Linked DNA regions of Homo sapiens: region 2 is linked to region 1. Evidence: fine-mapped expression QTL. A gene starts in region 1. The other region holds a variant in brackets. All regions are shown on one strand. Distances are from middle to middle.

Region 1 (5,304 bases):
AGAGCAGGACTTTATTGGGACACCATAAGGTTGAGGCTGGGAGGTACCCAAGAATTCCTGGGGATGGTATGTCATTGACTGTGGGTAGAGGGGCTCTTTTTTCACTATTCCCAGGCCCTAGTGTAAAGTTCAAAGAGAGTTCAGAAATAAGGACAGAAGAAGAGACATACACTAGGGGGAATGTTTACTTAATGTATGGCCACTCCCTTTTCCATCCGTCTTTGGACTGCTGTTAGGGCACCCATCCTGGAGCCTGAAAGTGCTCCCATAGCCATTTGCTCCTTTGGCTTTGGGGTTAAGCGTCATCTTTTTTAGGCTCCATGGGGAGTGGGAGTCCGTGATGAGGCAGGAAGTTTAGTGGAAGATGTGGGCTTTGCCCAGTTCCTTTCTGTGCTACACTTTGGCCCTACAGGACCAGTGTGTGGAAATCACTGAGGAGTCCAAGGCTCTCCTGGAGGAATACAACAAGACTGTATCCTTTCTGCTCAACTAGGACCCTAATGGGTGCTGTCCCTAAGCCCTGTCCTTTTGTTCCACCTCTAGCTCTCTCTCATCCTATCCTACCCACCTATGTTTGCCTGTTCCCCACTTTCCATGAACTTCCTCACTCAGATTCCTATTCTCACCTTGACCTACAACCAGACAATGCTTCTCTCCAAGCAATTCGTGCAGTGGGATGAGCTACTTTGCCAGCTAGAGGCCGCCACGCAAGTGAAGCCAGCAGAGGAGTGATAGCTGCTCCCCATCCCAAAGTGGGCCTGGGCAGTCAGGCTCCAGGGCCCTATGCCAACCTGCCTTTGTTACAAGGCAGAGGAAGCTTTGTATTTATTGGCTTCAAGGCCCACCTCTCTGTACTCTGGGCTCTAAAGTTGGAGGTCAGGTTACCTGAGGTTTGCAATTTGCAACACCCACCCTCCCCCCAATCAGTGTTCTTATTTCAGTGACAATAAACCATAGAGATGACTGGAGGAGTGTGCTGGCTTCTTGGTCTAGGATGGAGGTGGTAGGGGGCAGAGGTGTCAGCCTGCCTAATCGTTTGACTGGGAACTAAACTCATCCTGGTCTGGCTTTCTGGCAGGTGTAGAGCTCTCAAAATGAAGGCTCTCATTTGATTATGTGAATAGGATATTCCTTTATGTATCCATTTATCCCACATTTACCAATAAGAGACCTCCAAATGTCAGATGATGGGAGTAGATAGGGCTAATCCCTGCCCTGCACGGGCTAGCAGGATAGACAGTAAAGGAAAAGGGCAGTCCTATCAGGTGGACACAGAAGAAAAAAGGGACTGAAGGGACCTGGTAAGTGATATCCAGGGACTTTCAGAGCCAAGGGAGCAGCATGTGCAAAGGCCTTTAAATTTCTCTCTTGGGAGCCTACCTGCTGCCACGAGCCGAGAAGGGCAGCCTAAGAGGTTTGGATGCAGGAAGTTTTGGTCCTGGGGAGGGGAAGTTGGGAAGTAGGGGCGCTGGGGCAAGCATGTTGAGAAACAGATTGGCACCGTAGTCCACCAAATGTTTGCTGCCCCCTTGTGGTCTCAGGGAGTGCTCTGGCTCCAGACCCTTTTTCCAACGGCCCATTGGCCGCCCCGCCTTTGCGACCTCTCCGGCACCTCAAATTCAGCGTGTCCAAACCGATCTGAAACCTGGGAGTCACCCTAGATCGGAATTTCCTACTTCTCCGTCCAAACAGTGGCCAACTCGTCACTGAACCTACTAGTATCTCCCAACTTAATCTTTTTTCCATTCCCACCGCGATTTCTCTGGTTCATTAATGTAACAAATCATTTAACAAATATTGAGCGCCGGTCATACGCCAGGCACCATACTAGGCTCCGTGGGCACCCCCGCCCCCTCAGCCCCCAGACTCCGCGGCAGGTGTCGTCAGGGGCTGTGGCCCGATTTCCCCACCACTCCCTCCTCGGCTCCCTGCACAAGATCTGGTTCGACTGGCCCCTGGAAAACCCGGAAAACCCCCGTGGTCCGCCAGCGCCCACAGGATGAGGTCGAAGCTCAGAAGTCGGTAACTAAGGCTCTCGCCCATGCAACAGCAGCCACTACAAACTGAAGCCTTTGTTCGCACCCACGGTGAAACCCACAGCTCCCCGTTTGCTCAACAGCTAACGCCAGCCCTCCCATCTTCTAAGGGCCAGATCCCCCTCCTTCAGACGCAGGACTTCCCCGACGGCCGCTCCTTTCTACCGCAGGGAACTGTCCTGCCTCCCTCCGGGGCGTAACAGCGGAGGCTGCGCTCGTGTTCCCATCCCCGCTGGGACTGGTCCGGGGCGCTCTGGCCAGCGGGTTGTTTCCGCGGCGGAGATGCCTCGGGGCCCGTCCCTCACGCCCCGCCCCTCACGCCCCGCCCCCTCGGGGCGTGCGCGGCCCCGCGGCCTTAGTGCGCTCCGGGCCCGCGCGCCATCTTGGCTCCGGATCGTGCGTGAGGCGGCTTCGGTGAGAGCCGGAACCGGGCGGGCAGAGGGGCGCTCGTAGGGTTGGGGGACGCCTGTGGCTTGGCTGCAGCGGCCGGCAAGACCCTGGAAGAGACCGTGGCTATGGAAACGGCCAAGGCTGTCTTGGAATGTCCTGAGCAGCCCTCCGAGTCGAGCCTCTGCCCCCGAGTTTCTGAGTGACCTGGGTTGATATAGATTGACCTTGGTAATCTCTGGGAGAGGGGATCCGTTCTGTTTGGGGGCAGCACTGGATAAGGGTTCTTGGCTGTTTCCCGGGGGGCCTGGGGCGAAGGGCCTTGTCCCTGTCCTTGTAGAGCCCCAAGTGAGGAGCGCTCTCTATTGGTATTAGTCTGGGGTGAGGGTTCCAGGCCCTGTTCCAAGGAGCCCAGGATAAGGGGGGCTAAGCCCCAGTCCTGGAGAGTTTAGGATGAGGGGGCCTGGCACTTTCCCAAAGAGCTCAGTGTTTGGGGAATGTGATCCTGCCTCTTGGACTCCAGGATTGGAGGTGGGGGTGTTATGGCCCTTGTAGAGGAACGGGGTGTATGGGGTACAGCCCTTTCCCAGACTGCGGCAGGCATGGACCTTGTCACGAGATGCTAAGGACAAGGGGACATGATCCTGTTTCTGGGAAGTCTGGAACGGGGAGCAGGGCCATATCCTGGATGGAGATAGGGGATGGTGGACAGTGACTTGGGGCACATTGCTTAGCACTTACCTGATGCTTCCCTGCAGTGGGCAGCGAGAGTCACAGACAAGACAGCAAGCAGGATGGAGCACTACCGGAAAGCTGGCTCTGTAGAGCTCCCAGCGCCTTCCCCAATGCCCCAGCTACCTCCTGATACCCTTGAGATGCGGGTCCGAGATGGCAGCAAAATTCGCAACCTGCTGGGGTTGGCTCTGGGTCGGTTGGAGGGCGGCAGTGCTCGGCATGTAGTGTTCTCAGGTTCTGGCAGGGCTGCAGGAAAGGCTGTCAGCTGCGCTGAGATTGTCAAGCGGCGGGTCCCAGGCCTGCACCAGCTCACCAAGCTACGTTTCCTTCAGACTGAGGACAGCTGGGTCCCAGCCTCACCTGACACAGGGCTAGACCCCCTCACAGTGCGCCGCCATGTGCCTGCAGTGTGGGTGCTGCTCAGCCGGGACCCCCTGGACCCCAATGAGTGTGGTTACCAACCCCCAGGAGCACCCCCTGGCCTGGGTTCCATGCCCAGCTCCAGCTGTGGCCCTCGTTCCCGAAGAAGGGCTCGAGACACCCGATCGTGAAGACCTGCTGAGCCAGCCTGTTCTCCGGGCCTGAATGTCTGGGGTGCTTGTGCCTTTTCTGAGAAGCGTTGTGACTGCTCAACATCCCCATCAAGGTTTGAGTCCACAAAAGTGGACCTCCCTATCATGCTTCCCCTTCCCTCTAGCATGTGGGAAGGGACTGCTGTGAAGAATGACAGATGTGGGGCCTCTGCCAAGTTCTGCATTGCTAAATAAGGGCTTCCTCTGCCTTCTACCTACAGTGCATTTGAACTGCCTTCTGAAAGAGGTCCAGGGAGGGATTTAGGAAATAAAGTTTCTACCTATTTGATGAGCCTCTACTCAGCCTGCTATGTGGAGTGGGATTAAAGAAATGGGAGTCCCCGCCCTTACCCCGGGGGGCTGATCGGGTGAAGACAGAGGAAGAGTAGTAGGCTCAGGCCGGTGCTGGGAGAATATAGTGTCTACAAGAAGCCTCAGTCAGTACTGAATATATCTAATTCCCTGGATAGTTATTTGCCCCTGCTTTGGCCTGGTTTAGGAACACTGCCAGGTCAGACATTTCTCTCCATCTGCAGCATACAGTATAGTATAGTGGTTGTGAGCATGGACTCTGGTACCAACCTGCCTGGGTTTCAATCCTGGTCTGCCACTTATTAGCAAGTTACTGCTCTGTGCCTTAGTGGTCTTATCCATAAAACAGGAATACGATAGTGTTTATCACATAGGATTGTTATGAGATTACATAAGGAAATATACATATATGACATTTAGATACCACACTGGCACATAGTGCTATTAAGTGTTAATTGCTATTATCGTTATTAATGACTTACCTATCCCAAATGCAACAACTGTCTCACACCTCCTTCCCTCCAGCTTCCTTGCCCCAATCTCAGCTATGGAGCTGGACTCTGCTTTGAAGAGACAGAGGCCTTTCGAACTCCCTCATGTTCCATCTTCACCTCCAGACCTGTCTGTATACACATTTATCCTCAACTCCACTAGTTTGCAAACATGCTTTTTCCTGTCTTAGAATCATATCTTTGGGTTGGGCACAGTGGCTGATGCCTGTAATCCCAGCACTTTGGGAGGCTGAGGCAGGAGGATTGCTTGATCCCAGGAGTTGGAGACCAGCCTGGGCAACATAGTAGGGAGACCCTGTCTCTACAAAAACATCTAAAAATTAGCTAGGCATAGTGGTGTGCACCTTTAGTCCCAGCTACTTGGGAGGCTGAGGCAAGAGGATCGCTTGAGCCCGGGAGGTTGAGGCTGCAGTGAGCCATGATTGTGCTACTGTACTTCGGCCTGGATGACAGAGTGAGACCCTGTCTCAAAAACAGAAAACAGGCTGGGCGCAGTGGCTCACACCTGTAGTCCCAGCACTTTGGGAGGCCAAGACGAGTGGATCACTTGAGGTCAAGACCAGCCTGGTCAACTTGGTGAAGCCCCATCTCTACTAAAAATACAAGAAATTAGCTGGGCGTGGTGGTGCATGCCTGGAATCCCAGTTACTTGGGAGGCTGAGGCAGGAGAATAGCTTGAACCCAGGAGGAAGAGGTTGCAGTGAGCTGGGATTGCACCACTGCACTCCAGCCTGGGTGACAGAGCAAGAC
Region 2 (5,367 bases), 93 kb after region 1:
GGGGGCCCTCATCGCCATCGTCTGCAACGGTCTCGTGGGCTTCTTGCTGCTGCTGCTCTGGGTCATCCTCTGCTGGGCCTGCCATTCTCGCTCTGCCGACGTTGACTCTCTCTCTGAATCCAGTCCCAACTCCAGCCCTGGCCCCTGTCCTGAGAAGGCCCCACCACCCCAGAAGCCCAGCCATGAAGGCAGCTACCTGCTGCAGCCCTGAAGGCCCCTGGCCTAGCCTGGAGCCCAGGACCTAAGTCCACCTCACCTAGAGCCTGGAATTAGGATCCCAGAGTTCAGCCAGCCTGGGGTCCAGAACTCAAGAGTCCGCCTGCTTGGAGCTGGACCCAGCGGCCCAGAGTCTAGCCAGCTTGGCTCCAATAGGAGCTCAGTGGCCCTAAGGAGATGGGCCTGGGGTGGGGGCTTATGAGTTGGTGCTAGAGCCAGGGCCATCTGGACTATGCTCCATCCCAAGGGCCAAGGGTCAGGGGCCGGGTCCACTCTTTCCCTAGGCTGAGCACCTCTAGGCCCTCTAGGCTGGGGAAGCAAACTGGAACCCATGGCAATAATAGGAGGGTGTCCAGGCTGGGCCCCTCCCCTGGTCCTCCCAGTGTTTGCTGGATAATAAATGGAACTATGGCTCTACCCTGAGGTTTTCTTCTCTTCCTGAGGGCCCTGTGGTAGCACAATTAAAGGTGTGGGGTGGGTTTCTACACAGGTTTATTTGTGCAAAGTTAGAGGGGTAATGGTGGTTGAAGACCAAGTCCTGGGGTAAGGTGCTGGGACCTTAAGGAACAGAACAAGAAGGGAAGATGCTGGGACCTGATCAGGAGTGGGGTCACATGCTGGGTGCTAAGGCTGGGCTGGGTACCAGGGTCAAGCCCTAGGAGTACTGTATTCAAGCGATGGGACAGAGACTGAGGCCAGCCCCTCAGGTCTTGATTTTCACTTCCCTCACCAGGTTCAGCAGTTTGTCCAGTTTCGCAATCTCCACAGCTGGACCCTTCTGCACCTCCTGCCCCTTCTTTTCCTGGGGAGAGGGAAAGTATACATGAGGGAGGAATGGTGGGCCCCCCCTCTCTGGGTCCCAGCACCACCTCCTCTGCCCAGCCTGTCCAGCTGTGCCCTACCCCTCCCCTGCCCAGTAAATTCTGGATCCCTGCCTCCCCTCTCCCTGACACGATCATTCCCCAACTCGGGTTAGGTGACACAGGGGCTCAGCTGACAGCTTGCAAAAAGGAGTCCAGCTCTGGCTTGAACCTCAGATGGACATGGGGTCTTGATGCTTGTGGGAGTGGGAAAAGGCATCCATTCCCTGACCCTCAGGGGAACAACCTTCCAGGCCAGGGAAATCCAGCTCTGCGAAGGCGGGGGGCTGACTGCTGGCACCATCCTTACCATGGGAAGGTCCCTGGCCGAGACCTATCAAGGAGCTAATGGGTATGTGTTTGGGGAGGGAGGGGCTGTGGACAGAGCCTCAGGGGCCCGGACCTCACCTAGTCCTCTCACCTGATGCCTTCAGGTCAGGTTGGCAGTGGGTGCTATTTGGGGCGAGACCTGCTGTGTCAGACATACCCAGGGTTGGGAAGAGTGTCAAGAGACCCATAAGGGCAGAGGGAATAGTCCATGTGACTCCAGGTGTCGTTGGCTGAGGTTGTCCTTTAGAAGACCAGATCCTGAGTTTATGACCCAACACCCTACCTGCAAAGCACTCCAATCCTTCCATTATAAGTTGGACACTGGAGTGTGTGTCACCCACAGGTCCTGAGAACTCCTTGGCAGACCAGCACCAGTCCCACCCTCCCTGCTGTCCAGGCAGGGGGGTGAGGGCTGTGCTGGGGCAGGCTGGGCAGTTGCCATTTCCCCATTTCCTGCCTTCGCTGTGCTCCTGGGCCCCCATCCTCTCAGCCACCTGTGCCCACTGCTCACTGACACCTACCCCAGCCTTACCTTGGTCTGGCCAGGGCTGTAAAGGGGATGGGGAGGGGTGAGTGCAGGGCCAGTAGGCCCTTCCCTGGCTCCTTTTTGGCTGCTGTCACCATGTGGAGCTCAGATTTCCCCCTGCTGTGACCCCATACCTGCTCCCAAATTTTCTCCCCTATCCGCTTGCAGCCCAGTGCCTTTTTGCCACTACCTAGCTCACCTCTACCCTCTGCAGGCAGAGCACAAAAAAGCTCTTTTTCTCTCTCTTCCCTCTCTCCTTCCTAAATTAAGCTTGGGTTCTCTTCTTGGCTTCACCCCATCCCCTGGGAGTTAGGGGACCTGGTTTTAGTTCCAGCTCTGTCATTAACTCCCTATATGACTTTGGGCAAGGCCTTTGCCTTTCTGAGCTTCAGTTTCCCATCTATCCTGTAGTTAGGGAAAGACAGTCTTTGGCCTTGGACTCTTTGGGCTCTTGACACCCATCATGGGAGCTCCCTGGGCAGGGAGGTCCAGACCTCTGTGGGGAAGCCATTTGGAAAGGGCAGGGAGTCTGCAGCTCACAGAGGAAGGGCAGTAGGGATGCCCAGAGGATTTTGTTTTGCATGAATCACTTGGCTGATAGGGTCAGATGGCAATTTCACGGGAACCTCTAATCCACTCAAGTACCCACCAGCCCCCACCTGTCCCTTCTCAGGTCCTCAGAGACGTAGGTCCCCAGATACACACAGCCCAGCTCTCCCAGCCATGACTGACCCTTCTCTGAGGGGAACTGAAACTATGGGAGATGCTTACCTCCCTGGATCAGAGTGGGCAGGGCAGGCTCCCACCCATGTCTGACCCTTCTCTGAGGGGAACTGAAACTATGGGAGATGCTTACCTCCCTGGATCAGAGTGGGCAGGGCAGGCTCCCACCCATGTCTGACCCTTCTCTGAGGGGAACTGAAACTATGGGAGATGCTTACCTCCCTGGATCAGAGTGGGCAGGGCAGGCTCCCACCCATGTCTACCACCCTCATGGTGTCATGGCTGTACTCCTCCCCCAAAGAATGACCATCATCCCTCCTGGAGGGTTGTCCAACTCTGCCAGCTTCAACCTGGGTCTCTCTCCTCAGAAAATTAAGAACACATTTTATCTATTCCACAAATTATGCTTCCTCCTTCCTCCTCCTTGAGGCCAACTAGCTGGGCTCAGCAAAGAGATTCAGACCACGCCC[G/A]ACTCCCTCCCTCCCCTCAAGCCCACCACAGCCTCTGGGCCACAGCTGCAGGCGCTTAGCAGCCTTTTGAGTATTTATAGCCAAGTCCACCCTCTCCCCCAGCTGGCTACAATTACAGGGCCAGCCACACTCCCAGCCCTTGCCTCCCTGGCCATGGTGGGGAACAGGCCAAGCCAGCACCAGAGGGATGGTGCCGCAGTCCCTTCCTTGGTAGGAGCACAGTGCAGGGAAGACAGTAGTCGAAAGACACAGGCCCCTGCCACTGCCTCAAACTGCAGTAAATGCCTCAAATTGCCAGGAGGGATGGTCATTAGGGCAAGCTGGCCCAGTCCTGATCCTGGCCCAGAACCTGGCAGAAAGCAAAGAGCCATCTCTACTCTTAGCACACAAATGGGCAGGACTGGGCTCTGGGTTCTTGGGCTCAGGATTCCAAGGCCCGGGCTGCAAAGCCTGGGTTCATAAGTCTGGATCTGGACTCAGATCTAGACTTTAAGGTCATCGCTCTGGGCTCCAGACCTGTATTTGGGGCCCTTGGCCTCTGGGCAGGGTCTCCTGATCATTGGAGACCCTAGAAACAGGAACCAGAGCTCAGAAGGAGGGCTGCATAGCTGCTGACCTAGTTACTCTCCTTGCGGCTCATTTCCTTCCTCTCTGTGTAGACCCACAGCTCCCAGCTCAGGGACCACTGGGGCTGAAGCCCTGTGAAAGCCCAGTCAATGAGGCAGTGGCTCAGCCCCAGGCCCCCTGCCTGGGTGACCTGTCCTACCCACAGCATTTCCACTGGGAAGAAATCAATGATACCTCCACATTTGCCTCTGCAGGCTTCAGATCCACCTGCTCATTGGATGTCTCCACCTGGGAAAGTCACCTGGGGCCCCACAGGTAACTCAAATGCAGCATGTCAAACTGCTGTTTTCTCACAAACCTGCTTCTACTGTGAGCCTCATTCAGGCAATGACACCATCCTTACCCTGGGTCTCCCACATCAGAAACTGGGTGGTCACCCTGGCTTCTCCCTTCTGTCATCCCCACCCTCCTGGAGACTTTACGTCTTGCAGCAGCTCAAAGTCCCAGAGCCTGTACCTTTGGCATCTTGCGCAAATTGGGTGAGAGCTTGAGGCTGATGATGTGCCCACGGTCATCGCCCACAATGATGATGGGGTGGATGAGATTGAACTGCACGTGGGTGAGCCTGTTCTTTTTGGCCGCCACAGGCTGGTTGCAGATGGCCTCATACTTGTTGATGGCTAAGTCAAATATGTGGGCCTGTGGAGAGGTCGGTGTCAGCACACTCAGGGGTAATGAGGCCTGTCTTCCACCTCAGAGGAATGAGTCCCTGGACTTCCTGGGGAAAGACTGTAGAAGGCTAATGGCTAGCACACTGGAGCTGGAGGTGGAGGGAGGGGGAATTTTGTGTCTCTGTGTTTTTCCTATGGTTGAAAGAGTGAGAATTAAAAAGTTTAGGAGAAATTTTAAATCTATGGAGAATTAATAATAGCAGCTATAGGCTGGGCGTGGTGGCTCACTGACGCCTGTAATCCCAGCACTTTGGGAGGCCAAGGTGGGTGAATCACTTGAGGTCAGGAGTTTGAGACCAGGCTGGCCAACATGGTGAAACCCTGTCTCTACCAAAAATACAAAAAATTAGATGGGCGTGGTGGTGCATGCCTGTAGTCCCAGCTACTAGGGAGGCTGAGATGGGAGAATCACTTGAACCTGGGAGGCGGAGGTTACAGTGAGCCAAGATGGAGCCACTGTACTCCAGCCTGGGCAAGAGTGAGATCTTGTCTCAAAAAAAAAAAAAAAGAAAAGAAAAGAAAATAGCAGCTACCATTTGTTGAGCACTCACTATGTACTAGACTCTGGGCAAGCACATCATACGGTTGCATCACCTCATTATGCTCTTCACAACCACTCTGTAAGGTGGTTCTGTCATTATCTTTATTTTATAACGGAGGAGTTAGAGGCTCTTAGAGGCTAACCTGCTAGTAAGTGGCAGAGCCAGGGCTTACACCAGTTAATATATGTAAAGTGCAAGGACAGTGCTTGACATACCAGTGCTCATTCCATGTTGGATGCTACCTTCACCACACCCTCAGACCAAACCACTACCAACTCTCACCTGGACAACTGTGGCAGCCTCTTAACTGGTCTCCCCGCTTCCACTCTTGCCTTGTTACAATCCATCCTCCATATGGCAGTAGGCTTACCTTTAAAGCACTTAAAATCCTCCCACAGTCTC

The links.
Region 2: its variant is fine-mapped to the expression of RPP25L in whole blood (TOPMed, PIP 0.94).

What each region holds. Positions count from the first base shown.
Region 1 is chr9:34,609,210-34,614,513 of GRCh38, reverse strand. RPP25L (ribonuclease P/MRP subunit p25 like) reads left to right here and starts at 2,417. Exons shown (of 2, transcript NM_148178.3): 1 at 2,417-2,450; 2 at 3,182-4,019. The coding sequence starts at 3,218. The coding sequence ends at 3,709. It overlaps DCTN3 (dynactin subunit 3), which reads left to right. Exons shown (of 7, transcript NM_007234.5): 6 at 413-472; 7 at 643-968. The coding sequence ends at 732. RefSeq lists enhancers at 1,616-1,665, 1,793-1,842, 2,946-3,499 and a silencer at 2,243-2,482.
Region 2 is chr9:34,516,309-34,521,675 of GRCh38, reverse strand. It overlaps DNAI1 (dynein axonemal intermediate chain 1), which reads right to left. Exons shown (of 20, transcript NM_012144.4): 19 at 4,209-4,391; 20 at 692-1,018. The coding sequence ends at 920. ENHO (energy homeostasis associated) reads left to right here. Exons shown (of 2, transcript NM_198573.3): 2 at 1-633. The coding sequence ends at 211. Among named protein-coding and RNA genes, the nearest start is that of ENHO, 4.0 kb to the left of the region's middle. The variant G/A (reference allele first, on the strand shown) is at 3,126.